Homo sapiens: one gene and its partners. The protein of the gene in region 5 purifies or fractionates together with the protein of the main gene of each other region. This does not show direct contact. Each region holds a gene or a part of one and is shown on either strand. Other genes may lie near its edges.

The links.
Region 1: the proteins of DUSP26 (region 5) and PGM3 purify together in Homo sapiens (affinity purification with mass spectrometry, with the first as the bait; one large-scale study listed by BioGRID). This does not show direct contact.
Region 2: the proteins of DUSP26 (region 5) and NUP205 purify together in Homo sapiens (affinity purification with mass spectrometry, with the first as the bait; one large-scale study listed by BioGRID). This does not show direct contact.
Region 3: the proteins of DUSP26 (region 5) and ATG2B purify together in Homo sapiens (affinity purification with mass spectrometry, with the first as the bait; one large-scale study listed by BioGRID). This does not show direct contact.
Region 4: the proteins of DUSP26 (region 5) and ITPR3 purify together in Homo sapiens (affinity purification with mass spectrometry, with the first as the bait; one large-scale study listed by BioGRID). This does not show direct contact.
Region 6: the proteins of DUSP26 (region 5) and PRMT9 purify together in Homo sapiens (affinity purification with mass spectrometry, with the first as the bait; one large-scale study listed by BioGRID). This does not show direct contact.
Region 7: the proteins of DUSP26 (region 5) and NUP133 purify together in Homo sapiens (affinity purification with mass spectrometry, with the first as the bait; one large-scale study listed by BioGRID). This does not show direct contact.

What each region holds. Positions count from the first base shown.
Region 1 is NC_000006.12:83,172,337-83,176,658, forward strand, and holds part of PGM3 (phosphoacetylglucosamine mutase), read right to left. Parts: intron 3,725-4,322; coding exon 3,626-3,724; intron 2,152-3,625; coding exon 2,038-2,151; intron 1-2,037. UniProt on the Homo sapiens protein: Catalyzes the conversion of GlcNAc-6-P into GlcNAc-1-P during the synthesis of uridine diphosphate/UDP-GlcNAc, a sugar nucleotide critical to multiple glycosylation pathways including protein N- and O-glycosylation.
Region 2 is NC_000007.14:135,616,418-135,620,739, reverse strand, and holds part of NUP205 (nuclear pore complex protein Nup205), read right to left. Parts: intron 4,086-4,322; coding exon 4,014-4,085; intron 3,651-4,013; coding exon 3,493-3,650; intron 3,139-3,492; coding exon 3,058-3,138; intron 2,329-3,057; coding exon 2,137-2,328; intron 1,318-2,136; coding exon 1,050-1,317; intron 951-1,049; coding exon 852-950; intron 1-851. UniProt on the Homo sapiens protein: Plays a role in the nuclear pore complex (NPC) assembly and/or maintenance. May anchor NUP62 and other nucleoporins, but not NUP153 and TPR, to the NPC.
Region 3 is NC_000014.9:96,311,046-96,315,367, forward strand, and holds part of ATG2B (autophagy-related protein 2 homolog B), read right to left. Parts: intron 4,190-4,322; coding exon 4,109-4,189; intron 2,391-4,108; coding exon 2,284-2,390; intron 2,113-2,283; coding exon 2,020-2,112; intron 1,115-2,019; coding exon 1,044-1,114; intron 574-1,043; coding exon 497-573; intron 243-496; coding exon 72-242; intron 1-71. UniProt on the Homo sapiens protein: Lipid transfer protein required for both autophagosome formation and regulation of lipid droplet morphology and dispersion.
Region 4 is NC_000006.12:33,627,000-33,631,321, reverse strand, and holds part of ITPR3 (inositol 1,4,5-trisphosphate-gated calcium channel ITPR3), read right to left. Parts: intron 1,285-4,322; exon of another isoform or gene 938-1,284; intron 79-937; exon of another isoform or gene 1-78.
Region 5 is NC_000008.11:33,593,700-33,597,618, reverse strand, and holds part of DUSP26 (dual specificity protein phosphatase 26), read left to right. Parts: exon of another isoform or gene 1-27; 5' UTR 28-103; coding exon 104-324; intron 325-3,871; coding exon 3,872-3,919. UniProt on the Homo sapiens protein: Inactivates MAPK1 and MAPK3 which leads to dephosphorylation of heat shock factor protein 4 and a reduction in its DNA-binding activity. Inhibits MAP kinase p38 by dephosphorylating it and inhibits p38-mediated apoptosis in anaplastic thyroid cancer cells.
Region 6 is NC_000004.12:147,656,378-147,660,699, reverse strand, and holds part of PRMT9 (protein arginine N-methyltransferase 9), read left to right. Parts: intron 1-97; exon of another isoform or gene 98-195; intron 196-2,724; coding exon 2,725-2,908; intron 2,909-4,322. UniProt on the Homo sapiens protein: Arginine methyltransferase that can both catalyze the formation of omega-N monomethylarginine (MMA) and symmetrical dimethylarginine (sDMA). Specifically mediates the symmetrical dimethylation of SF3B2.
Region 7 is NC_000001.11:229,462,885-229,467,206, forward strand, and holds part of NUP133 (nuclear pore complex protein Nup133), read right to left. Parts: intron 3,873-4,322; coding exon 3,750-3,872; intron 2,636-3,749; coding exon 2,536-2,635; intron 1,992-2,535; coding exon 1,740-1,991; intron 793-1,739; coding exon 659-792; intron 1-658. UniProt on the Homo sapiens protein: Involved in poly(A)+ RNA transport. Involved in nephrogenesis.

The DNA of each region.
Region 1 (4,322 bases), on a different chromosome or scaffold from region 5:
GGCTGCAGTGTGCTGTGATAATGCCTGTGAACAGCCAATGCACTCCAGCCTGGGCAACATAGCAAGACCTTGTCTCTTAATAAAAAACAAATGCACTCCTGACCTCACTGTCAGGAATTTGAAACCAGCCTGGCCAACATGGTAAAACGCCATCTATACTAAAAATACAAAAATTAGCTAGGTGTGGTAGTGGGCGCCTGTAATCCCATCTACTCGGGAGGCTGAGGCAGGAGAATTGCTTGAGCCCGGGAGGCAGAGGTTGCAGTGAGCCAAGATTGCGCCACTGCACTCCAGCGTGGGCAACAGAGCGAGACTCCATCTCAAAACAAAACAACAACAACAACAAAAAAAACCCACTAAAGGCAGGCCCGCAGTTCATTCAGCATCCCCAAGGGAAAAAGACCCTCTCAGCCTCCTTCAGCTATGATACATCGTTTCCATGCATGCCAGATATGTATCATATTTTTTACTATTAAAATACTTGTGTGTGAATAAGTGTAAAAAAATGATTGATTGCTTATTGATTGATAGCATATAAATTCAGAGTTTTAGGAATGATGGTGATGCCAGACAACCACAGATTGTCCAACGGGTGGCTGACAGAGTGACACCTTTGCTTTCTGATGGTTCAGTAGACACAAACTTTGTTTCATGCACTAAATTTACAGTATTCTATAAAACCACCTTTAATCTTATGTAACATACATGAAACAAAAGAATTTAGTGTTTCCGACTTGAGTGCCATACCCAAGATGTCACATTATATATATGCAAATATCCCAAAATCCAGTGAATCTGGAACCCAAAACACTTCTAGTCCCATGCATTTTGGATAAGGGATACTCAGCCTATATCATGTGCTTTCTCACATGCAGCATGATTAAATGAAGTGTTTTTGTGGATGGATAAAATACGAACAATGAGGTGAAGATCTCTGTGGAAGACAATGAAAGGTATAACAAAGAATACTGAAACTAGCTCTTGAGAAACTTGCCTTTAGTACTCCTTATTTATAAAATGAAATTAGACTGGATAACTCTAAGGCTCAGCCTAACATTCCATCACTCATTTTTCTTTTTATAAATAGATCCCTTTTGAGATATTACCCCACAATGATTGATAGAAAGCATCAAGGTAAAATGGAGAAATATGAGCTTTGGTATAAGATATAACTGAAGATAAATCTCTGTTTCTTCACTTATAAAATGGAAATTACAGTAACACCTCTCCCTGTGTTACTGTAAGGATTACACAGCAAGGTATATAAAGTGTCCAGTGTGTGCAAGACACTCAAATAATTGAATCGCTTTCCTCTACCCTGAGTACTGCTTTTCCATAGCCAAACGACACTCCAACCCCAACTAACCCACATGTATGTCCTTTGTCAATGAGACAACCAGTTATTTGTGTTTGTTTTTGAGACAGAGTCTCGCTCTGTCACCCAGGCTGGAGTGCAGTGGCGTGATCTTGGCTCACTGCAAGCTCTGCCTCCCGGGTTCACACCATGCTCCTGCCTCAGCCTCCCGAGTAGCTGGGACTACAGGTGCCCGCCACCATGCCCGGCTAATTTTTTGTATTTTTAGTAGAGACGAGGTTTCACCCTGTTAGCCAGGAGGGTCTCGATCTCCTGACCTCGTGATCCGCCCTCCTTGGCCTCCCAAAGGGCTGGGATTACAGGCATGAGCCACCGTGCCTGGCCTGACAACCAGTTATTTTTACTTAATTTCATCGAGGTTTGGTTAAAAAAAAATTAATAATATATATGTATACACTGAGTAGCTGAATCTGTGATCCTAGGTAGAAGCTACCCAATATACTTGAAAATTTCCATCATAAGAGGTAGGGGAAGGGAAGCATATTAAAAAATGTTCTGTCATTCCATTTCATTATAAATCTCAACTGAATATACCACTATTAGAAGGAAGCCACCAGGCCAGGACGTCTCCACTTTAATTTTGTATGCACCCACACTCTGTTCTGTCCATCTTCTGAATAATGTAAAGGTAACCAAGAGTCCACTGCCCCATCAGTTCTGACCTGGTTAAACAAGTCAATAATGTTTTCAAGCATCTTAGCAGCTTTTCTTTTCTTATCTTCCAGTTGTTCTGCTGATTGTTTTATCTTCATTTCAACAGCTGTACTAAACAGTGCCTGCAGCAAAAGAATATAAAATCAGTCTCAAAACACTATCCAAAACCTAGTCATAAGTACTATTATTCTAGCTAACCCACTTTTCCCTCCTAGTCAATCTGGAGAAACTGAGGGGAAAAATAGTGGCAGCCTTAAAATGTATGAAATTAATGTAAGATCACATTAAAACCCAGAGGATAGTACTAGGGGAAAAATTTTATTTGCGGATTATATAACTGGTTATAAAAATTTAAACATCTGATTACAAAGAAAACACCACCTTGACAAGAGGCAAGCACACACAGTAAGTTCATGTTTTCCCTTTAACCAGCTAAATCATTTCTGTGCAACCAGGTTACTTAGAGCCTGTCTGTATCCTTTTTACTTTGAAGGATATAATTCATTGCAGCTAGTATAGTTTTATTCTAAAACTTAAGGGGATGAGCTAGGCAAAATTAAGAGTTCATAGTATTCATCAAAATATGGCAAATAATGTCATGGATAGTCATTACAATATATAATTCATCATGCTCCTCAAGAGTCTTATCTCATTTGGAAATACTCATCTTTTTTACTGCCTTCTAGAGGCCTAATACTGAGCAAGATTAGCATACTATGCTCAACTACTTGATGAAATACATTTTTCTTGATAAAATAAGGCACAGGCTAGTCACCTGTTTTTGTAAAGTTTTACTGGAACACAACCACACAGATTCATTTAAGCTAGATCAGCAGAGTTAAACAACTGTAAGAGACCTTATGGCCTGAAAATCCAAAAATATTTACTCTCTACCCTTTAGAAAATAATTTACCAACTTCTCCATTCGATCACTAAAGTTATATCTTAATTGCATTTTGTAGGAACTTATTTTTCCCCTTTTTATATTTATGCCCTCCAAAAGCCAATTTTAAATTAATGAGGAAAATTATTTGGCTTTGATTCAAATGTTCTGATAGCCACCTCAAGTGTATTCATTAAATGAGGTGAGTATAAAAACATTTTAAAAATATTCTGAACATTATGAATCTACAAAAAACTAAATTATACACTTTAAAATGTAATTTTATGTAAAATGTAAATTGAAACATTTTATGCCTATCACTAGTTACCTTAAATTCATTTTCATTTCTTATTAATTATCAACTTTCCAACACTTTGCAATTCACCATAGCGACTGAATTTTTCTTTTCCTCTCCTATGGCCAGCCGGAAAATGCATAGACAACATACTTATAAAAAAATTAAGAACTGTAAATTTTAAAAAACTATTCAAAACACCTTAGTATATCTCTTCACATTCAAAGAAGAATCATTACCATGTAAAAGAGAATCACAGTTTCATAATACATCAATATATAAGATAACCAAAGGATCTTTTTGTCACATCCAATTATTTCAACAAAGTACAATATTACCTATTATTACCTCCCAGATATAGAAGTCTCATCATAAAGAAAAGTGCCAGCTAAGGCCAACTATAATTAAGAGAACTTACAGTGCCATGCCCATTTGCTTCAAAATAAACTCCAATGTCAAACTCTTGAGCCTTGTGGTGCAAATGTTTTACACCAGTCTTAGTGCAATAGACAGGTACCTATAACACATGCATTTAAAGAAATACAGCAATTACTCAGATGTCAAATGTTTCTTGCATACCTAGTATCCCAGAGATACAAAGGGGAACAAAATACTGGGGCCGAGTCCAGTGAGGAAGACGATTAAGCATTAAAATACAAAATGGTACGTATACAATGGAAGCATGAACACACTCTGGAAGCACGCAGCCAAGGGTAAAGCACGGTGAGAGAGATGAGGGTCTCCTTATAAGACACGAAAGATTACAAGTGGGGGCGTGACATGACCTAACTGTTTTAGAAAGCTGTTTAGCTACAGTGTGGAGAATAGCTTAGAGCAGAATTGCAAGCTTTTTCTGTAACAGGCCAGACAGTAAATATTTTAGGCTTTGCAGGCCATATGGTCTCTGTCACAATTACTCTGCCATTACAGTGCAAAAGCAGCCACAGACCATACATAAACAAATCAACATAGCTCTATTCCAATAAAACTTTGTTTGCAAATAGCAGCAAGTTCAATTAGAAGGTTAAGAAATGGAATGAGGAGGCTTCTAGGACTAATCCCAGTAAGAAATAGTGGCTGGATCAGCAATAGTGAATAGGGAAAGTCATGGATGG
Region 2 (4,322 bases), on a different chromosome or scaffold from region 5:
GAATCTTTTTAAAATAAAAGTACATACTTTTACACATGGAAATTCCACCATTAAGCAGTATCCTTTTTGAGAAATATAGGCATATAAAAAAAGTTGATGTAGCATTTTTGTAATAAAAATTTAGAAACAATTGAAATGCCTGTGAATAAGGAAAATGGCAGATAAGTGTTTCATCCATATCATGGAATAACAAAGACTTTTGTGTTTCTTTTTGAGACAGAGTTTCACTCTTGTTGCCCAGGCTGGAGGGCAGTGGCGCAATCTGGGAAACCTCTGCCTCCTGGGTTCAAGCGATTCTCCTGCTTCAGCCTCCTGAGTAGCTGGGATTACAGATGCCTGCCACCATGGCTGCTAATTTTCTGATTTTTAGTAGAGATGGGGTTTCACCATATTGGCCAAGCTGGTCTCGAACTCCTGACCTCAGGTGATCCACAGGCCTCGGCCTCCCAAAGTGCTAGGATTACAGGCGTGAGCCACCATGCCAGGCCGAGATATTTTAAAAGAATCAACTAGATAAGTACTCTGATGTAGCACAAAGGAAAGAAAGACATTGGACCATTCTATGTAGAGCACACTGTTCAGTCGGACTTGAGGCAAGTGAGGGAGTTACAGAAGTATATAAAGCTAAAGTATTATTTGAAGGTTATCTTAAAAGTAGTACTCATGTACTACTTCATAATTCTTAAAAACTAAACATTCTTCCTCAACTTTTGAGTAAATGCTTTAAAAATGACACTAACACTCATTTTTTACAGTTGTGATTAGTCAAAAGATGGAGAAGTGATTTTTTTTTTCAATTTAAAGTAACCATCTCCCAATCCAGAAAAGATTAGGAATTGATCTCATTCTACCTGCTTCTAAGGTGTCTGGTTCATCAGGTCTCTGGGCAATCTGTAAGTAATAAAGCAGAGAGCCATACAAGTGAGTCCTCACTCGTTGGAATCCACCACCTAGGGAGATTAGGAAGATGTCAAATGAAAATCTTTTCTCAATTAAAGTTAAAACAAATACAAAAGATAGAATTTATAGACAATTTAAATGAAAAAAACCTGTCTTCAAAATGAAGTCTAACAGTTTCTTCAATATGATGTAAAGTGAAGAATCTCCAATAGAAGCAAAACCCACTAATGGGTTCTCTTCAGGAGGAGGTGAGGTGAAGCAACTATCAAGCATAAAAGCGTAATGGGCCTCTGCTGGTCCCAAGACTGATGTTTCCTTCTGTTCAGTGAGGACGGCCTGGCTTAGGTGAGCAGTCAGTGTGAACACTGCCCCGGCGACCACAGGCATTAACTCTTGCGCAGCTTCATCATCCAGTATCTTAAAGGACAAGGGCAAATTAGAGTGAGAATCCTGCTTTCAGCTATAATCATTAACAAATTTCATAGCTTTTTTTTTTTGAAGACAGGGTCTCGCTCTGTCACCGAGGCTGGAGTGCAGTAGCATAATCTCAGCTCACTTCAGCCTTGACCTCCTGGGCTCAGGAGGTCTTCCCACCTCAGCCTCCCGCAACTGTGACTACAGGTGCACACCATCATGCTCGTAGAGATGGAATCTCACTATGTTGCCCAGGTTGGTCTCAAACTCCTGGGCTCCAGTGATCCTCCCACCTTGGCCTCTCAAAGTTCTGGGATTGCAGGCATGAATCACTGCACACAGCCCATTAACAAGTTTTATATACATTTAGCTTGTCAACTATGGTAACAATATAAGAATGGAATACAGAAATTAGTCAAGAAAGAAAGAAAGAAAGAAAGGAATCTAATATATACAGAGAAATTTAAACATGATGCTAGGTAATGGGTGTTCTTAACCAGAAGGGATTCCTATCAGAATTCCCTAGGGAGGTTTTCTTTTTGAAATTCACATAAATGGTCTCACCACTACATTCAGTAGGTCTGGGGTGGGCTCTGTCCATGTGAATTTTTACAAAGCTCCCGAGATAACTCAGACACACACTCTGGTTGAGAGCCACTACTGTACAGAATTAATCCCTTTCTCAAGGAAAGTCTTAACGTTGGTATTGCACAATTCTATTTTACTCCCAATCGAAAATGGAAAACAATTAGGATGCCAAAATATATTTGTTTAAATGATACATTCGTTCAGCAGTATAAAGTATTTTAGGAAGTACGTCACCTTATCATGCACATCTTGTAAAATATCACGAATAATCAGTTGTCGATCCTCTGCCTGAATGAGGTCCTGGGGACAAGCTGTCAGTATAATTTCTACTAGTTGCCTCCACGACTCCAGAGCATGACGTTTTGCATGAAGACACTGCAGCAATTTATTTCTTCCTACCACATACTGAAGTACAGTGCTGATTTCCTAAAGCCACAGGAATTGAATCACAAGGTTAAACAGGCAAATAAGATCAGTTATCTGTCAGTTACTCAGAAAATATTTATTTGGAAACCTACTACATGCATGCCAGGAAGCAGGTATCTTTTCATATTATTTCAGTAGCCAGGGCTATAAAAAATATTAACATATAAGGTGTGTATGTGTGTGTATGTGCATGAAAGGTAGGGGACAGAAGTGGCATAGATAAATATGTATTTTTTGACACCATCTTCTTTCTCCTTGTACCTGTCTACTTATACTTGCTTACTCTAGAGCACTAGAATTATCTAAACTCCAAGTTCAATGGCATGTTTCTCTGACATCTCTTTTATTTCTTTGCCTCTTGCTTTGGCCTGGCCGGCTGTATCTCCATTCATGTGGTTCTTCCCACCTGACCTCTTATCTGTAACTTTCCACTTGTGATGACAAATGACCCTCCTCTCTCACTGATGGGGACCAAGTGAAGTCTAATACGAAATATGGTCAGGTTGCAAATCCTTAACTAGCCTAGCAGAAAAGGTGTTATTTATTTTGGCATACCAGATAGTTCAGTTTATAAAAGTTATAAAATCAAAAGTGAAAGACTCCCTAAATGTTTAATTTTTAGGCAGCTTACTAATTAGCAAACTACATGTCAATATACTATTTTAGTCTTTTCACCAGCAACCTAAGTAGTTAGAAGTTTGAAACGAACACATACTCAATAGAGCTTACCTCCATTAGTAGAGGTCTCTGTCCTATGGCTGCCATACCCTGAAGGGCATTTACTTCAGCTACAAGAACCCTATGAAGAAGCTGGATAATTAGGAAAAGAAAGAAAAATAAGACATTTCAGACACTGGTAGAACAGTAACACCTAGCAATTACCATAAACTGCCCTAAAGGGAAAGGTGTCAGATACCTTTATATATAATCTAACAGGAGCACTGTCCAATTTCCAGACCAAAATATTAAGTATCCCTTTTCAAGAAGTTAGGTGATATATTAAGTTTTATTTCAGGGATATTTTACAAAAATCACAGTCCTTCCTATAAACTACTAAACCAATGTCTCTATCAGAAAGAAAACCTATATGGTTCTATTTGTTTCTGATGACTTAAAGTCTGAGCCACTTGACACTGCAGATATGTACTTTAAAGCAATCCTCACCTTGACATTGCAGACTGTCTGTCCCCGTAAATTCTTGTGTTCACAGTTAGCAATAACTTGTTCAATCTGGGCCCGATCAAAAAAATCCAACTGCAAAGGCTCAGGGATCTCCTGACTGAAGTCAATCGAGTCAAGAATATTTAGAATTTTTCGACGTACTAGAAATAATAAAAAGTAATTTGATTTTACTTGGGACATTGAAAAGAAAGGCAAGCCATCATATTCAGTTGATTTTCAAAGACAGTGCTATTTTCAGAAAGAGCATAAAATAGTCAAGAAACTGAAAACTGTATTGGAATCTAAATTTGATTTTATTTCTGATACATCCATTAACAAAAATATTTTCTTTCCTTTTGTATAATCCTATTATAAAAAAAATTTTCAGGTGGCAATTAATCCTTTATATAACTTTTCTATACCAGTTCAGAGTTTGGAGGCACAGGCATAATAATCCCTTGAAGTTTTTTTTTTTTTAATATATGTCTATAAAATAAATTTATTACAAATTCAAAGGGCATTACCTTTTGTAGCAGTGTCAAAGTGAAGGAACCCAGAAACAGACCTGTTTTCATCTTCTATTCCTCCTTCACCATCTGTTGGAATATCAATAATATTGAATCAGAAAAAGAAGAACATACTCTTAAAACTATTTATTTGGAAATAACAAACACAAGGTATCTTATTTCTAGGTCATTGTTTCTACATCAAAGAGCCCTGTGCAAATGGATAATTAAAATGTAAAGATTGATGAGGATTTACTACCAACATTAATCTAATTATTTCTGTCCCTATGGAATCCACTGCACAATTGTAAAGAGAATAATCAGATT
Region 3 (4,322 bases), on a different chromosome or scaffold from region 5:
CATGAAGACCTCAATAATGTAAACATGTCACGACATGGCAGGGACTGGAGGAATCACATTGCTGACTGTACCTTAGACCTTCTTTGAAAGGCTCCAGGCTTCATATCTGCCTTGTTAGGTGTCTGCAAGTCACCATAGCTTGCAATGTACTGAATGAGATTCATTAACGCAGCACAAGAGTCTGAGCACGTTCTGATATGGACAACATCGCTGGAACAGTGTAACTCAAAGCGGGGCTCAGTCTGGACAAGACACAGAAAAAGGGATGAAAATGTTTTCCAAATGAGACAAAAGTTTCTTTTTTTGCATAGATTTACATTAAATAAGATTCATGATAATCTGTCTCGCTACATAAAAAAAGTATTTAAATAAATCCATTTTTAATATACTTACTCTATTTCTGACCAAAATTAGGTACACGGAAAAATGTTAAACTCAATTTTTTTAATCTCTTAAAAAATAGAACTTAAAATTTTCATTTATTTTAATAACTCACTTGCTCTCCATCAGAATCAGACTTCACTGCAGTTATGGTTAACTCCAAAAGCCCCATATCCATCACACGAACATAATCTAAAATTTTTAAAATTAAGAAAATCTCTTCAGTACAGCTTTCAAAAATGTGTATCCAACCAACACCCAATACAACTAGCATTCCTTTAAAATTCATTGCAGAGAGCACTACAAATAATTATAATGCAATGAAAATAGTTTCATCCCATAGAAGTCCTAAAATTCACTTTATTTTTTGTTAGAAACAAAAATTATCTTAAATAAAAATTTGTAGTATATATAGTAATTTGATGTACTTAACTAGCATTATAAGAACATTACAATTTCAAACTGAAAAACCAGTATCTGAAAAATGAAGCTGTGAATATATACCACATGATCACTATATACTTAAAGACCCTTTAATCTTTAAGGATCTTTAATAAGATTCTTAGTTCACTAGCATTATCCCAGAGTTAAAATGCTTTAAAATTATTTACGCACAAAAATAAAGCAGAATTTATCTACTCCATTTGTTTTTTAACTCTTACCTCTACTCAGATTTATAGTGACAGTATTGCATTTGTCAGATAGATGTAAAGCAGCTTCATCCAAGATTATTCTGAGGCAAGAAAGATAAAACCAACATCTGAAAAACTAAGCTTTGAGTATCATACCCCATAATCACTATATGCTTAATTGCATCATTCTTTCTGGTATGAACATTGTTGAAATCATAAGCAGTTTCTAACTTATAACTGTCATCTAACATTTTTTAAAAACTGTTTATGAATGCTAGGAATATTTAAATGGTGTAAAGAATTAGATTAAATCATCTACTCAAATTAATTCTAAATTTTTGGCAGTTTTTAAAGAGATGCCCAAATTCACAAGGTTTAAACTATAGTATAAAGATAGAGTGGGCCAGATGTAGTGGCTCACACCTGTAATCCCAGCCGTTTGGGAGGACAAGGCAGGAGGACCACCTGAGGCCAGGAGTTCTCAACTAGCCTGGGCAACACAGCAAGACCCCTTCTCTACAAAAACAAAACTTTTTTTTTAATCAGCCAGGGATAGAGGCACACGTCTATAGTCCTAGCTACTCAGTAGGGTGAGGGCAAAAGATCACTTGGGCTCAGGAGTTGAAAGCTGTAATAAGCTGTGATCATGCCACTGCATTCCAGCCTGGGCCACACAGAGCAAGACCCTGTCTCTAAAAAATAAAAAAATTAAATAAAAAGTATAAAGTGTATCAGGTAGCATGGGAAGTTTACCATATGTTTTAAAATGCAAACTTTTTAAAGAATCTCCAGAATTAATTTCTTCCCTAAAAATGAAATGCAATAATAAATGGGTAGATGAAACATGTCACCTGAGAAAAATTGGGTAATTTGGGTAAAAGGTTATAACTATTAGTAAAAGAACGTTTAACAAAAAATTGAGACTTTAATAAAATGGTTTAGGTAAATATCAATTGGTATGTTTCGAACAGCTTTGTTTAGTATACAATGAAGTTTACACAGGTACCTGAGAGTAGAGGAAGATTTATCCAATGCAACGCTACTGGAAACACTGAATGTTTCCACGGTAAGAAGAGATCGGATTGGCAAATAAAGGGGTCTAATGCCAAAGAGAAACAAAAGAACATCAGTTTGATACGGCTCCAGAAACTCTATTAAAAACAACAACAACAACAACAATTTGAACCTTAACTCTACTGAATTATGTATTTTTTTCAAAATTTAGTAGCATTTTAAATAAAACTTTATTTTGTTCCATTTGTGAACTTACCTATAATCAAGTGCACAGCTCCAAAGATGAACATGAAAAGTTGTAAATGAAGTTGGAGGATTATATCCCAAAACAGGTTCATCAGCAATATTCAAGAAGTATAAAATCTATAATCACAAAAAATTAAAACGCCCTGCTTTAGAAGAAAAAAAAGGTTTCATATAATATCCTTAATACCAATGTAAACCAGAATATCTCACAGAAAAAATCATTTAATTGGAAAATCATAACGGTAAAAGGAAAAAAATCATCATTTTGAAGGAATTAGTTTCAAAAAGTACTTGCATCAGAAAAGAAGGTAATGGATACTGATGGATGTGTTCGTTTGACTACAATAGGCATTTTACTATGCATATCAAGACATGTTATTCACCTTATATATAATAAAAATAAATTTTTTAAAAGTATTTGCAAAATTAGAATTTGAAATGCAGAAGCCTATCCAACAACTCCAATGCTACAGAAATCTTAGAAAATCACACCTTATGAAATTAATAACAATGTATGCATAATATAATTTCATATTTTTTGGCTTGGAACAATTCTCAGAAAAAATAAATTTTGCTAAAGACTGCTTAAAACTATCAATCTGGCTTCTTATATAACTCATTGTGTGCAGGGGCGATTGGTTTTTCATATAAGTCATTGTTGAAGGAAGCTCTTTTTCCTTAATGTATACCTAGCTCAGTCTAAAAACCAGTCCCTCTCACCAACATCTATTCTTTCATATTTCTAATCCAAACAAATAAGGAGGTTCTGCTAAATGTCTCCCTTCCAGCTGGTTATTCACCCTAACCACTTCTCTACTCCTACCAGATAGAAAGTCAGACAGATATTCTCATGTTTCCTAAATGCTTTCATGAGAAAAGAATTTTGAAAACACTCAAGTTTTTAAATAATGTATTATTTTCCCAGCACAATTAAGAAGTTCTCCTTTATAAGAAACATGAGAAGCAATCATAGTGCACTAGTTTTCATTCTCACATAAGGAAAAGCTAACTTCTTACTCAAAGTCTCCTCTGAAAAATAACCAATTGTATTTTATTACCATAAAAAGTTGTTGAACTGGAAATTAATGAGAGAAATCCTGATAAAATGCTTTAAAGCAACATCATATTATTGGCCTAGGGAATTATATGGAAATATTGCACTTAAAGAACTTCTGATTATAAAAGCAATTCAACACACCATTCACTGCTCCTCTACGCCAGACATTCTACAAGTCCTGGGATACAGAGTCCCTTCCCTTCCTTTAATGACATATAAGATAACTCTGTCATTGAGAGGTTTTGAGGACCACACTTTAAGGTAAAAAACCAATTACATTCTGAGGTGATAATACTGTTTTGTTTTGTTTTGTTTTGTTTTGTTTTGTTTTGTTTTGTTTTTTGAGACAGAGCTTCGCTCTTGTCGCCAGACTGGAGTGCAGTGGCACGATCTCAGCTCACTGCAACCTCCGCCTCCCGGGTTCAAGCGATTCTCCTGCCTCAGCCTCTCCAGTAGCTGGGATTACAGGTGCATTCCACCACGCCCAGCTAATTTTTGTATTTTTAGTAGAGACGGGATTGACCAAGCTGGGCTCGAACTCCTGACCTCAGGTGATCCACCTGCCTTGGCTTCCCAAAGTGCTGGGATTACAGGCATGAGCCACCGTGCCCGGCCAATACTGTTCTATTTCTTAACCTAAAAGGTGGTGACACCGTAGTATTCACTTAATGATAATTCACTGAGCTGAACATTTATGACTTACAAACTTTTCAGTATGTGTATTAGATGTCAACACAAATTTTTAAATAAATTAATACATATATAACAGCTCTCTTACCTGCTCATGCCAGCTAAGCCCAGAAGGAAGCATTCTATGCTGGAGAGTGGCTCCTTTCAGTCCTACGGCAATGAGAAATTCCTATACAGAACAAGACAAAGAATGACATTTACCACCTATGTAATCCTATAACTCAAAAGTTTTTCCAAGAAAATAAATATGTTGCCTTTTATGTAATTATTTTTAGCTAGAATCAAATCAACAGTGGCATAAA
Region 4 (4,322 bases), on a different chromosome or scaffold from region 5:
ACCCCAGCCGTTCAGGGCCACTACTGGTCTCCGCGTCTTGATGGTAGTGGTCACCCCGGCCCAGGTGTTTTTTCTTTATCTCTTTGTCTTGTGCTTTTATTTATTACAATCTCTCATCTCCGCACATGGGGAGAACACCCACTAAGCCCCGTAGGGCTAGACCCTACAACTGGCCACCACTCCACAGATGCAGGCCAGCCCCAAGGAGGCCACTCCAACAGCAGGCACTGTCAGAACACTGGGATGGGCTGGTGGTGGGTGGGAAGCCTGGGGGGCCCTTTCTCCAGATAGCCAAAGTCACACCTACTAGGCGGAATGTTAAGAGAGAAACCCAGATTCACTGGTTGGGGCTCCTGGCTCATCAGAGAAAAGAAATTAACTCCTGCATCCCTGCAAAAGCAACCATTTCCTTTACCTCTACATATCTTTACCAAGAATCCACCCTGTGCCAACCAACGGGGGGCCAGACAGTATATGGAATATATAGAATTTTAAAACAAGTACAGCTAAAGCCTTCAGAAAGCTTAAAGTCTAGAAAGGACAATAAGCCGCACACGCAGAGAACCCAAATAGTCTCTCCAGGAAGAATGGAGATAGCAAGAACAACTAAACTTGGCCCAGTAGAAATAAAGGTCGGGGCCAGTGTGCCACCCTGCCTCTGCCACAGGCCTGGGTTTCTGGCTGTCAGGGTCAGGCGGGCTGTCTGACAAGTCCTGGGGTCTCTACAGCGGTGCTGGGTGCATGGGAGGACATATCTGTAAGGCCAAGGAGAAGAAAGACAGGGAGCAGGAGACCAAAGGGAAAGCTGGGAAGAGAGGGAGAAAAGGTGCAACCATGGGCCGCCAGCCAGCCCTTGCCTCATATATTTGGCCTGCCAGCCCCAGGCTTGTCTCCCACTCTCCATAACCCAGAACTGGACTCTCTCAGTCTTTCTCACTTGACAGAGTAACTGAGGCTGTAGGACCCTCAGCAGGGCAGACCCTCAGGCCAACTCGCCCTGGCTCCAAACCTCCGCAGAGCTCTCTGGGAAACAAAGCAACAAAGGCAGCCCTGACAAATCAATCCAGAAAGTGAAGCAGCCTACACCACAACCCCGCCTTGCCAGAAACTCAGTGTTCATGGTGGAAAAGGAGATGAGGGCGGGGCGCTGTTTTAGATTAAAGGAAACTGAAGAGGCATAAGAAAATGTAACACGAGTACCTTGACAGGATCTCGATGGTTTTTCTTTTTTTTTGACGGAGTCTCACTCTGTTGCCAGGCTGGAGTGCAGTGGCACGATCTCAGCTCACTGCAACCCCCACCTCCCGGGTTCAAGTGATTCTCCTGCCTCAGCCTCCCGAGTAGCTGGGACCACAGGCATGTGCCACGATGCCCAGCTAATTCTTGTATTTTTAGTAGAGACGGAGTTTCACCACGTTGGCCAGGATGGTCTTGATCTCTTGACCTCGTGATCCGCCTGCCTCAGCCTCCCAAAGAGCTGGGATTACAGGCATGAGCCACTGCGCCTGGCCTAGGATCCTGATTTAAAGAAACCAATGGTCAGGCCCGGCGTGGTGGCTCACGCCTGTAATCCCAACACTTTGGGAGGCTGAGGCGGGCAGATCACCTGAGGTTAGGAGTTCAAGACCAGCCTGCCCAACATGGTGAAACCCGTCTCTACTAAAAATACAAAAATTAGCTGGGCGTGGTGGCTGGCACTGGTAATCCCAGCTACTCTGGAGGCTGAGGCAGGAGAATCACTCGAACCCGGGAGGCAGAGGCTGCAGTGAGCCGAGATTGCACCATTGCACTCTAGCCTGGGCTACAAGAGGGAAACTCCATCTCAAAAAAAAAAAAAAAGAAACCAATGGTCGGTCAAACACAGACAACCTGGGCCCAGTGGCTGTAATCCCAGCACTTTGGGAGGCCAAGACAGGAGGATTGCTTGAGCTCAGGAGTTCGAGGTTACAGTGAACTCTGATCACACCACTGAGGACAATGGGCACATCTGACTATGGATTGGGCCCTGAATGCTATTAGGAAACTATTAATTGGTGTGATCACAACACTGTAGTTACATAGGGATGTATAATAAAATATTTAGAGGTGAAAAAGATGCAATGTATGTAATTTATCATAAAATACTTCAGCAAAAAATACAAATATCAAATGTGACCACTGTAAACAATGATTAAGTCTAGGTGGTAAGCAAATTGGTGTTCTAAATGCTTCCCACTACTTTTCCTGAATTGTATTTATGCCTCAGGCTGTGAGAGCATAGGTAAAGGCCAGGGCCACCCAATGTAAGTGATCTGTAAAGTCTACCCACTGCCATCATCATCATCATCTTTGAGACACAGACTTAATTTTCCCTCCCATTACCTATATCACCCCCATCATCTATTTCTAGACTCATACTGGAGAAGAGGGCTCTCCTGCACTGTGCAGGAAGGGCTAATGGCTGGCTGGCTGGCGGGCTGGCTGGCTGAGCGATGGGGAGAGCAATTTGCTAACCAAATATGCACAGGTGTCTGCCTCAAGCACCTGCAGCTGCTCCTGGACTGAGATTTGTGTTGACAGCCCCTTCCGGCTCTGCCCACCTGCTGACCAAAAAAACATAGCACTCTGGCCATTTTACTCCCTCACTGAAGCCTCTGCAATGAGTCTCTCCTGACTGTCTCCCCAAGTGGAAATCCCTCTGTAATGTGGCATGTGGCTCCACCCAGTTCCATCCCCAGCCCACACCCTGGACTCACTGTGTTGTGAACGCCCAGCCTCATTTCTGCACCCACGATTTCTCTCACAGTCCCTAGCCTGAAAGGCCCTACAAACTTCTCTTCTCAGTCCCCTGCTGCGTGACCCCAAGCTCTCCAAGCCAGGTGTCCTGACTGCAGGGAATTGTGACTGCAGGTACAAATGCTGGGTGTCACTGGCACCTTTCGCATGACCAGCCTGACATACCCAGGGGGCTCAGAGCTCACATTCAGAGGCCTGTGATGAACTTAGTAGAGATCTGCGTTCTGCTTTCCTCCTTCCCCCACCCCAGGTTTCTTCCCTTCCACTCACACAGCCCTCACTCCCAGAGAGGGGTGTCCCAGCCCCACATGGGGTGAAGTCTAGAGAGCAGGGCTGGGGGTGGACATGCAGGGACTCCAGGCATGTGTGCAGAGGTCATCCAAACCCAGAAACCTCCCCCTAAGCTGAAAACAGAAAGCTGGTGTGGCCCCACCCTAAAACTCAGCATGTGTCCCCACCCCCAACCCAAGCCACCGCCCCAGTGGGCCAAGCTAGGGAGGGGATATGGGGTCAGGAATGTAGGGCAGGGCAGAGTGTAATCAAGTGGCTCCAGCAGGATTCTTTCAGGCCGGCAGGATTCAGGCCGAGCAGTTGGATGCAGCCTGAGACCCTGGAGTCTCAAGGTGGATGTGTGGCACTGGTTCTAGGCTGAGCCAACCCCGCGCCACCCCCTCTCCACTTCATCCCTTCTCCATCACATCCTCGCACTGCCTGGGAAGTGCCTAGTACCTAACCTTGAGGGCAGAGGCTGGTCTTACTCCCCACATGCTAGTGCAACACTCACACATGACATGAATCATGTCTGACCCTCTGTGGCACCAAGTTCTGTTCCTATACCCCTCCACCACCACAGAAACACAAAAAGTTAGACAGCCTAAGAGTTAAAGGTGTACCTTGTCTTTGATCTCCATTTCTGGGAACGTATTACCTGAGAGGATAACTATAACTAGACAAGTGTTCAGGCATGCATGCACTAGGATGTTCAGGGCAAATTGTTCTTAACAGCAAAAATTTACAAAGAGCCTGAATGTTGAATACTAGAGTTGCTTAAATAAATTAAGGTACAGCATACCATGGCTGTGCAGCCATAACAATGGTGTGTTGGCATGGGAAAATACAGCTCACTATATATATGCAAAAAAGGACAGGGTACAAAGCCATACGTGCAGTTTGATATTGTTTGTAAATGTTCATTTATGAATATAAAAGGCTAGAAGGTCATAGGGAATGTTCATGTAAGCCATAGTGGTATTACAGATCATTTTTTTGAGTTTTTCACATTTTCTCCATGGAATGTATATTTTTTTTTAATCTGAAAAAATATATATATTTTCAAAAAATGAGTTGCATGGATTAGGCTAAGACCAAGAATCTGCCTTGAGGTACAGAACAGAAGTCTAACATCTTCTTCCAATGAAATCACAATTAAATGAAAGCCAAGCCGGGTACAGTGGCTCATGCCTGTAATCCCAGCACTTTGGGAAGCCGAGGCAGGCAGATCACCTGAGGTCAGCAGTTCAAGACCAGCTTGACCAACATGGAGAAAC
Region 5 (3,919 bases):
TGTGTCTCACACCCCTTCCTCTTCCAGCAGCAGCTACCTGGCAACTGAACCCATCATCACCACAGCCACTCCTGCAGCTGCCACGGTTTCTGCCACCTCTAAGATGTGCCCTGGTAACTGGCTTTGGGCTTCTATGACTTTTATGGCCCGCTTCTCCCGGAGTAGCTCAAGGTCTCCTGTTCGAACTCGAGGGACCCTGGAGGAGATGCCAACCGTTCAACATCCTTTCCTCAATGTCTTCGAGTTGGAGCGGCTCCTCTACACAGGCAAGACAGCCTGTAACCATGCCGACGAGGTCTGGCCAGGCCTCTATCTCGGAGACCAGTATGTATCGGGCAGACTGGGCCCACGGTAGAGCGTGTGTGTGTTTGTGTGTGTAAGAAAGGAGAAGGGTGGCAGACAGGTATGCAGTGGTGTCATTGGTTCCTGGTTGAAGATTGAGGGGATAGGGCACATGGGCCAAGAGTAGAGGCTGCAGGTTTGGGAGAGTTTGGCCAGGATTATTGAAATGCCCAACTCTGGCCAGTCACAGTGTCTCTTGCCTGTGATCCCAGCAGTTTGAAAGGCTGAGGCAGGAGTATCTAGAGTACAGGAGTTCTAGACCAGCCTGAGCAACAAAACCAGACCCCATCTCTACTTATTATTTTAAAATAAAATAAATAAAATAAAAATACCCAAGTCTGGACAGAAAGACTCTGTTCCAGTAATAATATCATTCATGTATCACATATTTATTATTACATGCCAGTGCTACATACCAGGCACAATAGATGACTTCTCTGACCTTCCATCTATTGTGCAATGTCTCTGGGAAAAGGCAGCCACTGGAAGCCAGGAGCAGTAGGTAGGAAGCTGCAGTGGTTTCTCTTGAGACCAAGCAAAGCGGCAGTGCCTACAGAGATTCTGCAATTTGAAGGCTATGGAGAGAAAAACATCAAAGGAAGAGCCATCCCCACTTCTCTCCCTCAAAGTTATACAAGGATTTCTTTTGCTTCTTTGGTTTGTTTTGGTTTTGGTTTCTTTCTTTTATTTTTTTTTGGAGACAGTATCACTCTGTCACCCAGGCTGGAGTGCAGTGGCGCGATCTTGGTTCTCTGCAACCTCCACCTCCCGGGTTCAAGCGATTCTCCTGCCTCAGCCTCCAGAGTAGCTGGGACTACAGGCACACACCGCCTTGCCCGGCTAATTATTTTTTTGTATTTTAGTAGAGACGGGGTTTCACCGTGTTGCCCAGGCTGGTCTTGAGCTCCTGAGCTCAGGCAGTCCACCTGTCTCGGCCTCTCAAAGTGCTAGGATTATAGGTGTGAGCCACCGTGCCCAGCATTGTTGTTGTTTTTGAGACAGGGTCTCACTGTTGCCCAGGCTGGAGTGCAGTAGCCCAATCTCAGCTCACAGCAAACTCCGCCTCCCGGGTTCAAGCAATTCTCCTGCCTCTGCCTCCCAAGTAGCTGGGCTTACAGACGCCCATCACCACACACAGCTGATTTTTGTATTTTTAGTAGAGACGGCGTCTAGCCATGTTGGCCAGGCTGATTTTGAACTCCTGGCCTCAAGTGATCCACCTGCTTCAGCCTCCCAAAGTGCTGGGATTACAAGCATGAGCCACCGTGCCTGGCCTACAAGGATTTTTTTCACACACATTATCTCTCTTAATCTTCACAACAGCCCTGTGAGATAGGTATCACTCTCCCTGGGTTACAGATGAGGAGACTGAAGCTCAGAGAAGTTGTGCCTGGCCAAGGTCACACGGGTTGTAAGTAGCAGAGCCCGGGCTTGGAGGCTCAAGTTCAGTGCTCTTTCTGCTTAAGGAGTTTGCACTGGACAGGGCAACTCAGTTTGCCCTGAGATATGACTGTGGTGCCCAGGGGTGTCTGCCACCAAGCTGAGGGGTCTGGGCCGGATGAACACCTGAAGGTGACGTCATAAAACAGGGTAAATGTGGCCGGGCATGGTGGCTCACATCTGTAATCCCAGCACTTTGGGATACTTAGGCGGATGGATCACGAGGTCAGGAGTTCAAGACCAGCCTGGCCAAGATAGTGAAACCCCGTCTCTACTAAAAATACAAATATTAGCCTGGCATGGTGGTGGGCACCTGTAATCCCAGCTACTCGGGAGGCTGAGGCAGAGAATTGCTTGAACCCGGGAGGCAGAGGTGGCAGTGAGCCGAGATCGCGCCACTGCACTCTAGCACTCCAGCCTAGGTGACAGAGCAAGACACCATCTCAAAAAAAAAAACAAACAACAACAACAACAACAAAAAAAAACACAGTCACAGTAAATGTGAGCCATGGAATATCTGGCAAAAACACAAGACGGTTCTGGGTGTCAACAAGAGTAGAGACATAGGGGAGTTAGGTGTGGAAGTGGATGTCAGAACCATACTATCTCAGAGTGAGCAGGACCGATGAAATGAGCAGAACAATCTGCCTGACATTCATTTCCCCTCTGCAGCATCCATGGCTACATGGCCATCTCCTCTTTCTGCCTGAATACCCCAGGGACAGGAAAACCACTCTCTCTCGAGGTTCTCCACCCTTTCCTCAGCTAGACTCCACCATTAGAATGTACTTCCTTGTATGAAATTGAAATCAGCTGGCCAGGCACAGTGGCTCACGCCTATAATCCCAGCACTTTGGGAGGCCTAGATAGGTGGATCACAAGGTCAGGAGTTCGAGACCAGCTTGGCCAACACGATGAAATCCCATCTCTACTAAAAATACAAAAATTAGCCGGGCATGGTGGCAGGCACCTGTAATCCCAGCTACTCAGGAGGCTGAGGCAGGAGATTCGCTTGAACCTGGGAGGCAGAGGTTGCAGTGAGCTGAGATTGCACCATTGCACTTCAGCCTGGGAGACATAGCAAGACTCTGTCCCACCTCCCAAAAAAAAAAAAAATGAAATCTGCTTCCCTGGGGCTTTAATTCCTTGATCCTCATTGTACCCTTGAGAACCCTACAGATCCAAGACAATCTCAATTCCAGAAAACACACTTTCAGTTTTGTTTTGTTTTGTTTTGTTTTTTTTGAGATGGAGTCTTGCTCTGTCACCCAGGCTGGAGTGCAGTGGTGCGATCTCGGCTCACTGCAAGCTCCGCCTCCCAGGTTCAGGCCATTCTCCTGCCTCAGCCTCCTGAGTAGCTGGGACTACAGGCGCCTACCACCACACCCAGCTAATTTTTTCTATTTTTAGTAGAGATGGGGTTTCACCATGTTAGCTATGATGGTCTTGATCTCCTGACCTCGTGATCCGCCCGCCTCGGCCTCCCAAAGTGCTGGGATTACAGGCGTGAGCCACCGCGCCCGGCCGCACACTTTCAGTTTTATTATGGCTATTTTTACCCCATCCCCTTAGTCTTCTCTTCTCCAGGCAAAACATCCCCTATACCTTCAACCATGGCTCACAGGACAAGACTCCAAGTCATTGCCCATCTTGGTTCCTCCCTTCTGGATCACTAGTAAGTAAAGTAGTGTCCTTAGGCCAATAGTAGGATCCAGGAGGCCAGGCATGGTAGCTCACGTCTGTCATCCCAGCACTTTGGAAGGCCGAGGCGGGAGGATAACTTGAGGTCAGGAGTTCAAGACCAGCCTGGCCAACATGATAAAACCCCATCTCTACTAAAGATACAAAAATTATCCGGGTATAGTGGCATGTGCCTGTAATCCCAGCTACCCGGGAGGCTGAGGCAGGAGAATCGTTTGAACCCAGGAGATGGAGGTGGCAGTGAGCACTCTGGCCTAGGAAACAGAGCGAGACTCCATCTCAAAAAAAAATCAACAATAGGATTCAGGAAGTTAACAGGGTGTAGACAAGGGAGTCTTCCCCAACAACCTGGCTTTCCCACCCTTCCTCTAACCTCTACTCAATGCAGGGACATGGCTAACAACCGCCGGGAGCTTCGCCGCCTGGGCATCACGCA
Region 6 (4,322 bases), on a different chromosome or scaffold from region 5:
TTTCTTCCTGAAATTATTTGCTTTCTTCCTTGGTTTCCTTGCTTTTCTTTCCTTTCTTTCTTTTCTTTCTTTGACAGTGTCTTGCTCTGTCACCCAGGCTGGAGTGCAGTGGCACCATCTCGGCTCACTGCAGCCTCGACCTCCCAGGTTCAAGCAATCCTCCTGCCTCAGTCCCCCAAGTAGCTGGGACTACAGGCATGTACCACTGTGCCCGGCTAATTTTTATATTTTTAGTAGAGATGCGGTTTTGCCATGTTGCCCACGCTGGTCTCAGACTCTGAGCTCAAGCGATCTGCTGACCTTGGCCTCCCCAAGTGTTAGGATTACAGGCATAGGAGCCACTGTGCCAGCCTGCTTATTTAAATACAGAGAAAACCCCTCCTAAGATTGTTGGGAATATATAGGGTGCCAGGTGCTTTCACTTGTGTTCTTAGGCAGCTCTTATGACATACTGCCATACAATTATAATTATCCTTGTGTTACACAGATGAGGAAATTGTTGCTCACATTAAATAATTTCCCCCCAAGTTATTCAATATGTGAATACAGGGGCAGGAATTCTAACCTAGGTCTTTCTGACTTATCTCTATATCATGCTGCCATTTCAAATTAACAAAATGAACAATAATCCAAATCTCTAGGTTGTATGTGCATTATGGTGACCAGCCTTCATGGTTTGTCCAGGACTGAAGGGGGTTCCAAGACTTGAGACTTTCTATTTTGAAACTAAGACATTCCTAGGAAAAGCAAGAGAAGCTTATCACTCTAGTGTGTGTGTTAGTGAATGGCGTGAGGATGTTCTGTATAAAGAAAGTGCCCAGCCAGGCGAGGTGGCTCATGCCTGTCCTCCCAGCACTTTGGGAGGCCGAGGCAGGTGGATTACCTGAGGTCAGGAGTTCAGGACCAGCCTAGCCAACATGGTGAAACCCTGTCTCTACTAAAAAAATACAAAAAATTAGCTGGGTGTGGTGGCGGGTGCCTCTAATCCCAGCTACTTGGGAGGCTGAGATAGGAGAATTGCTTGAACCCAGGAGGCGGAGTTTGCATGAGCCAAAATTGCGCCATTGCACCCCAGCCTGAGCAACAAGAGCGAAACTCCGTCTCAGAAAAAAAAAAAAAAGAAAAGAAAGTGCCCAAAGAAATTGGAAAGGTTACATAGAATTCTCTAAAGATCTTTAATAGGTAAGGTTAAATGTTCAAGTACATAAATGTTGTAAGTGAAACCTGTTTGGAGATAGAAGACTCTGTGAGGGTAATTTTAGCCTAAGATTTTTTTTTCTTTTTTTTCTTTTTTTTTTGAGACAGAGTTTCCCTCTTGTTGCCTAGGCTGGAGTGCAGTGGTGCGATCTTGGCTCACTGCAGCCTCCACTTTTCGGGTTCAAGTGATTCTCCTGCTTCAGCCTCCCGAGTAGCTGGGATTACAGGCACCCACCACCATGAGCGGCTAATTTTTGTATTTTTAGTAGAGATGGTGTTTCACCATGTTGGCCAGGCTGGTCTCGAACTCTTTTTTTTTTTTTTGAGGTGGACTCTCACTCTGTCGCCCAGGCTGGAGTGCAGTGGCGTGATCTCGGCTCACTGCAAGCTCCACCTTCCGGGTTCACGCCATTCTCCTGCCTCAGCCTCCCGAGTAGCTGGGACTACAGGTGCCCGCCACCATGCCCGACTACTTTTTTGTATTTTTAGTAGAGACGGGGTTTCACCGTGTTAGCCAGGATGGTCTCAATCTCCTGGCCTCGTGATCCGTCCGCCTTGGCCTCCCAAAGTGCTGGGATTACAGGTGTGAGCAACCGTGCCCGGCCCCAAACTCTTGACCTCAATGATCCACCCACCTTGGCCTCCTAAAGTGCTGGGATTACAGGCGTGAGCCACCATGCCCAGCTAGCCTAAGATTTTTATAATTTAATAGAAGCTTTCCTTTATTATTTGTTACCACATTGTTCTTGAGGAGATCTGGAACTAATTTAACAATTTGGCCTTGCTTACTGAGGCTGAGCTTTCTGAGCTTCAAGAGCATTCCTTACCTGTTACGACTTTCAATAGCAAGTAACACGTTTGTAGCTGCCATTTACCCCCGAACTATCCTTTTATTATTTTAAGGCTTTTTAAAATTTTAATTTTTCTTAGCCACACACAAATCTTACTAAGGTTTTAATTTCAAAAGTCATGCCTGCCTGTTTAAGACTTTCAAGCAATACAGGATAGAAAGGAAAAAGTCCTAGTATTTTTCTTCCTTTTTAAAATCTCAACCCTTTCCCCAGGTCACTAGTTTGAAGTACATCTTTCCAGACTTTCTTTTCTGTACACACACACACATACACACTCACTCTCTCTCTTTCTCACTCTCTCTCTTAAACACATGCTCTCTCTCACTACTCCCTCTCTCTCTCTACCCCCCTCCATCCCCCTCTATTTTCTAAACAAAACAATCTCCACTGCTTTGTCACTTAACCTTTTCAATTCAACAATATATTATGGACTTCTTTCCATATCAGCAATATATATCTGCTTCATTCTTTTTAATAATAGCTGCATGGTATTCCAATAAAATAGGTCAGAGCTTCCCAACCAGTGGGCCTTACATGGTTATAGGTGTGCCAAGATACTGAATCCCTAAGGGAGCTGGGCAGGACTAAGAACTCCAGAGATGGAAAATGGTAAGATACTGAGGCAAGTATATATGAAATATATAAAACCGTTTCATTCCTTCTACATTTTTCTCAGGAATTAAAAAGTCTTGCAACTAAAAAGCCTGATAAGATTGGTATTCCTGTTATTAAAGAAGGCATACTAGATGCTATTATGGTTTGGTTTGTGCTCCAGCTTGATGATGAACATAGTTTATCCACAAGTCCTAGTGAGGAAACATGTTGGGAACAGGCTGTCTACCCCGTACAGGACCTTGCAGGTAGGTCTTGTCCATTTTTTTTTTTAACCTCTTGCTTTAATCTTCTAAGTATTCAAGTCAGTGGCAAAAAAAAAATTACTTTGGATATGAAGGTTTCAGTCAAAGGAGGTTGGTTAAATCTTTCAGAACTTCATTTTTTTTCAAAAGAAATTTGAAATAGGTAATATTTGTGGTTAAGAGAGACAAACACAACTCTGTTGCATAGCATTTGAAAAACCTATCATTATTTCTTCAGCTCTGATTTTTCTTTTTTCTTTTTTTTTTTTTAACGACAGAGTCTCGCTCTTTTGCCCAGGCCGATTGCAGTGGCTTGATCTCGGCTCACTGCAAGCTCCGCCTCCCGGGTTCACGCCATTCTCCTGCCTCAGCCTTCCGAGTAGCTGAGACTACAGGCGCCCGCTGCTGCGCCTGGCTACTTTTTTGTATTTTTAGTATAGACCGAGTTTCACCGTGTTAGCCAGGATGGTCTCGATCTTCTGACCTCGTGATCCACCCACCTCGGCCTCCCAAAGTGCTGGGATTACGGGCGTGAGCCACTGCGCCCGGCCGATTTTTCTAGTTATCAGTAGATGAAAGAAATCCTGCTCCATTATTTCATGGAAAGTACTGGAAAAGTATTGCTTTTAGTGCAGGAGTTCTTACTCCTTAGAGAAGCCGATAACGTCTGTGGAGCCCTGCATCATAAAAATGTACACACTCATATAAGCACAAAATTTTTCAGTTTTAGAGAGTTCATGAATCTGAACTTCCCTAGGGAAGTTCTGTATAAAGATTTTTTTTTTGTATGGAAATTTTTTTTACAGTGATTCGATGGGTTTCAGTAAGTTTAAAGTAGTTGAATTATATAGAAAAACTACCCTTTTTAGGCTGGGTATGGTGGCTGACACCTGTAACCCTAGTACTTTGGGAGGCCCAGGTGGGAGGATTGCTTGAGGCCAGGAGTTTAAACCAGCCTGGGCAACATAGCAAGACCTCATTTCTTTTTTTCTTTCTTTCTTTTTTTTTTTTTTTTTTTTTTTTGAGACAGAGTCTCGCTCTGTTGCCCAGGCTGGAGTGCAGTGGCGCAATCTCAGCTCACTGCAACCTCCGCCTCTTGGGTTCAAGTGATTCTCCTGCCTCAGTCTCTTGAGTATATGGGACTACAGGTGCATGCCACCACGCCCAGCTAATTTTTTGTATTTTTAGTAGAGACATGGTTTCACTGTGTTAGCCAGGATGGTCTCGATCTCCTGACCTCTTGATCCATCCACTTCAGCCTCCCAAAGTGCTGGCATTACAGGTGTGAGCCACCGTGCCCGGCTGCAAGACCTCATTTCTACAAAATGAAAAAATTTAGCTGGGGATGGTGGCAAGTGCTTGTAGTCCCAGCTACTTGGGGCACTGAGGAAGAAGGATCGCTTGAGTCCAGGAGGCT
Region 7 (4,322 bases), on a different chromosome or scaffold from region 5:
CCCTCAAGGAAAATGAGAATGTTAGGTGTATTTGTAAAGCTAAGCTCTCTTAAAGTAGTCTTCTATGCTCCCGAGTATCTTCTATACAATTTTTAAGAACTTTACCAATATTCATGTACCTAAGTACTTTTATAATAACTAGAAAATATATAAACAGAAATGAAAGTTATATTTTCCAAAGGTCAAAGAATCTTTCAGTAATATTTATATATAAAGAATTGTGTGGTCAGGCGATGGCTCATGCCTGTTATCCCAGCACTTTGGGAGGCTGAAGCAGGAGGATCGCTTGAGCCCAGGAGTTTGAGACCAGCCTGGACAACATAGCGAGACTTTGTCTCTACTGAAAAATGAACAAAATTAGCCAGGCATGGTGGCGAGCTCCTGTGGTCCCATCTACTGGAAAGCAGGAGGTGTGGGAGGGGGTGAGGTGGGAGAAGTGATTGGACCCAGGAGGTTGAGGCTGTCGTGAACTGTGATCTCGCTACTGGACAAAATTTACAAAGAAACGCGACATACAAATTAGTATCTTCTCATCAAAGTTAACTACAAAAAGATCGTATCATATTCCAAAAGCCCTGATTACAGATTTGAAATGGCAAAGCCATTTCAAGAAAAGGCAACTAAAGGACTCAGTGGCCACACACCCAACACTCATCACCTGATCAGCAAACTGGGTCATGTAGCGCTGGAGTCGGCTCTGGTTGTCAGTCTGCTCACACATTTGTACCAATATATCAAAGTCACAGTATTTCTCTGCTAGAGAAGCAGCCCACAGGTACTGGCCTAGTGAAACTGTGGGAATGAGAAAAGATGGGAAAAAATCCTGTTAGCAAAACTTAAAATCTGTAATAAAAAATGTTACTTGAAATTTTATCTTTATTCCTATTATAAACCAACAATCATTAATGGAATGGAAACCTTCCCACTTACTGGCACTTAGTTTCACAATTCACATCAATTTCTTAAAGATGCAAATTCAGGCCAGGTGCGGTGGCTCACACCTGTAATCCCAGCACTTTGGGAGGCTGAGGCGGGTGGATCACCTGAGGTCAGGAGTTCGAGTCCCGCCAGGCCAATATGGTGAAACCCCATCCCTACCAAAAATACAAAATTAGCCAGTTGTGGTGGCACACGCCTGTAATCCCAGCTACCTGGGAGGCTGAGGCAGGAGAATTGTTTGAACCCGGGAGATGGAGGTTGCAGTGAGCTGAGATTATACCACTGCACTACAGCCTGGGCGAGAGAGTGACGCTCTGTCTCAACAAAAAAAAAAGATGCAAATTCAGACCCTTGTTTCATCACTGCCTCCCCAAAACGCTATTCTCTTCCTTCATGTAAGAGTAAAGCAAACTCTTCCCAGTCCTAGCCTGGAGTATAATGTGTCCTTTGCCAAACAGCCATAATATCTTATCTGTACCCCTCAAGCAGCCCTCACCAGGCTCTACTTTGCAATCCAGTTATTCACGTAAAGGTCTGTGATGCTAAGCTCTTTAAGGGTAGTCTCCACATGTTGTTTGTTTATGTATTTATTAATTGTCTTCAGTATCATCTATGGTACTTATACCTAGATAGTACTGGAAAAAAAGTTGAATAAATGAGCACAGAAAGCTGTGCATATTTGCTTTAAGTTCTTTATTACAGTTGGATTAACACTACCACACTGAATATACTGAATTAACTATTCAACCCTTTCATCCATTCAGCAAATTTAAAACTCTTGCCAAGTATCATGAACTTACGAAGAGGAGATAAGAGATCTGATCTTTTCTGTAGGTATTCCATCTCCAGATTGTCATATCTTTCCCGATTACTGGATTTATCCACAGACTTAAGCTGAGAAACATAACCATCCAGGAAGCAATCGATCAGGGCTACCAGCTGCTCGGTCACGATGTTTCGGAGGTTGCTGTCTGCCTGTGGATAAGCCACCTTCAGGACAATCTCATGCTGGCGTATTATTACCGTTCGGATGCCACCAGGACCACTTGTTGCTGTGAAATTACACAAAATAATATGGTTAAAGTAAGGGATCTAGTGATGGCTAAAGGAAAGACTAATAGCATAAAAATTATGCCTCTTCATCACTGCTGGAAAATTACATTGAACAGGGATTCAGGTGATACCTGTCAATGCCCTGCTTGAATCCCATCTTCTCCAAGGAGATTTCCTCAGCAAAGCCAGGTAAACATGACTCTTCTTCCTTCTAAATTCCTTTAATGCTACTCCACTTACTTTCTTGTATTAAATCAACATAAAATATAGTCCATACCTCCGGGGCCAGGACTGCTTCTATGAATAACTATTTGAACTAAAACCTAGTAAATGCATAAGTACCAGTTGAATACATAAATTATAGAGAGATCGATAAATAAGAGCAAGGGACGAATAAAGTGATTTTGACAAGAGCTGCTCATTTTGGAGACGGCACTTTTTCATTTCACTTACAAACCTACGCTAGGGGAATAACACAACTTCTAAAAATGATGGGTCATTAGAAATATATTTTGAACAACTGTTAATAAATCAGTATATTACCCGTCCATGGAACATATTCAGGTTCTTTTTCTAGTGATTCTTCTCTTCTATACAAAGAGTTTCTATTTTGGCGATAATGACTAGCAGCCTGCAGCATATCCTGGAAAAAAAGTTAATGTGTTATCACATGCAAAAGGTGATGGATCACAGTATTTCTGAAGATAATTTAAGACAGCAAAGTAAATTAGTAAGAAAAAATACTCAGGGGCCAGGAATGTTGGCTCACACCTGTAATCCCAGTGCTTTGGGAGGCTGAGGTAGGAGGATTGCTCCTAGCCTGACAACATAGTGAGACCCCATCTGTACAAAAAATTTTTAAAATTACCTGGGCATCGTGGCGTGCACCTACCGTCCCAGCTACTTGGGAGACTGAGGCAGGAGGACTGCTTGAGCCCAGGAGGTGGAGGCTGCAGTGAGCTATAATCAAGCCACTATAAACCCAGCCTGGGCAATGGAGTGAGACCATGTCTCACAAAAAAAAAAAAAAAAAGAAAAGAAAAGAAAATGAGAGAAAAAAGTCAGCACAGATCTGCATGATTACTTTTTGGTTCTTTCTGCTTTTGAAATTTGTTTTACTCCATAATTTAACTTCAGTTTTGGCAAATAATAGTAGGAAAATTATTTGGCAAAGTAGGAAAATCATTACTACAAGTCCACTAGCTAAAATTAAATGGAACGTTTTAGTCAATAGTAAAAGTAGCAAGGTTTTGAGTAATTAAAAAAATAGAAATGAGAAATATTTAGACAGTTACATTAACAATACGTTTGCAATCAGGCATGGTGTCTCAGTTCTGTAATCCCAACACTCTTGGAGGTTGAGGCAGGAGGAAGTCGTGAGCCCAGAGTTCAAGGTTACAGTGAGCTATGATGGTGCCACTGCACTCCAGCTTGGGTGACAGTGAGACCTTCTCTCAGAAAAAAAACCAACTAAAAAATTGCAAAGATACAAACACATCTTCCCAAATGAAAGGTTTATTATTCTACCAAATAGAAACTCAAGATTATAGAAATTTATTAATAGGCACCAGGCTAACATTCAAAATACTCATTAGCTGATTAATAATAAAATGACATTTTTCTAACTTTTTTGGGATTAACAAATGTCTACAACCTTATACATTATCGGCAATACAGAGTAGGAACATGGAAACCAGTTCCTTGTCTATCCATGCCCTGGGCTTTGATTTGCTGAAGCCTTTACTATATTTTTGTACCTTGAGAATATTGTTCACATTGATCACCACTTCAGCCCATTCAATGGAATCCATAGGTGCATCCCTCAAGACTTGCTCCTCATGCTCCAGTAAGCACTCACAGATGGTATCTACTTGGGATACCTGAGAGAATACACAGAAGTAAACTACTTACAACAAAAATTATGGTGATGGGTAACAACTACCCAGTGAGTTTTACTCATTAAGCCATATCCTCAGACCTATAGATGGAGGAAAATTTATTGGCAGTTGATGGTAAAAATAAATTCAAAAATCAAGAAAAGTCACATCTCCTAACTTTTAAAAGTCAGAGTGCCCAAATAAGTCTTATAAACAGGCAAATTCTGGATTGTTACTGAGATTTTTAAGCGATGATATTTTTTATTATAGCTACTCTGCTCAGTGCATCTTTAAATAGCACTAGGTTACAGATGACATCACTTTACAATGTAATACCCCAAACTAATGAACTAATAGACTAAAATAATGACCTCAAAAAGTGAACTTGCTAATTTCTTTCTTTGAGGAATTCCCCTTCTTCAGACATAACAGAAACATTTGTAGAACAGAAGT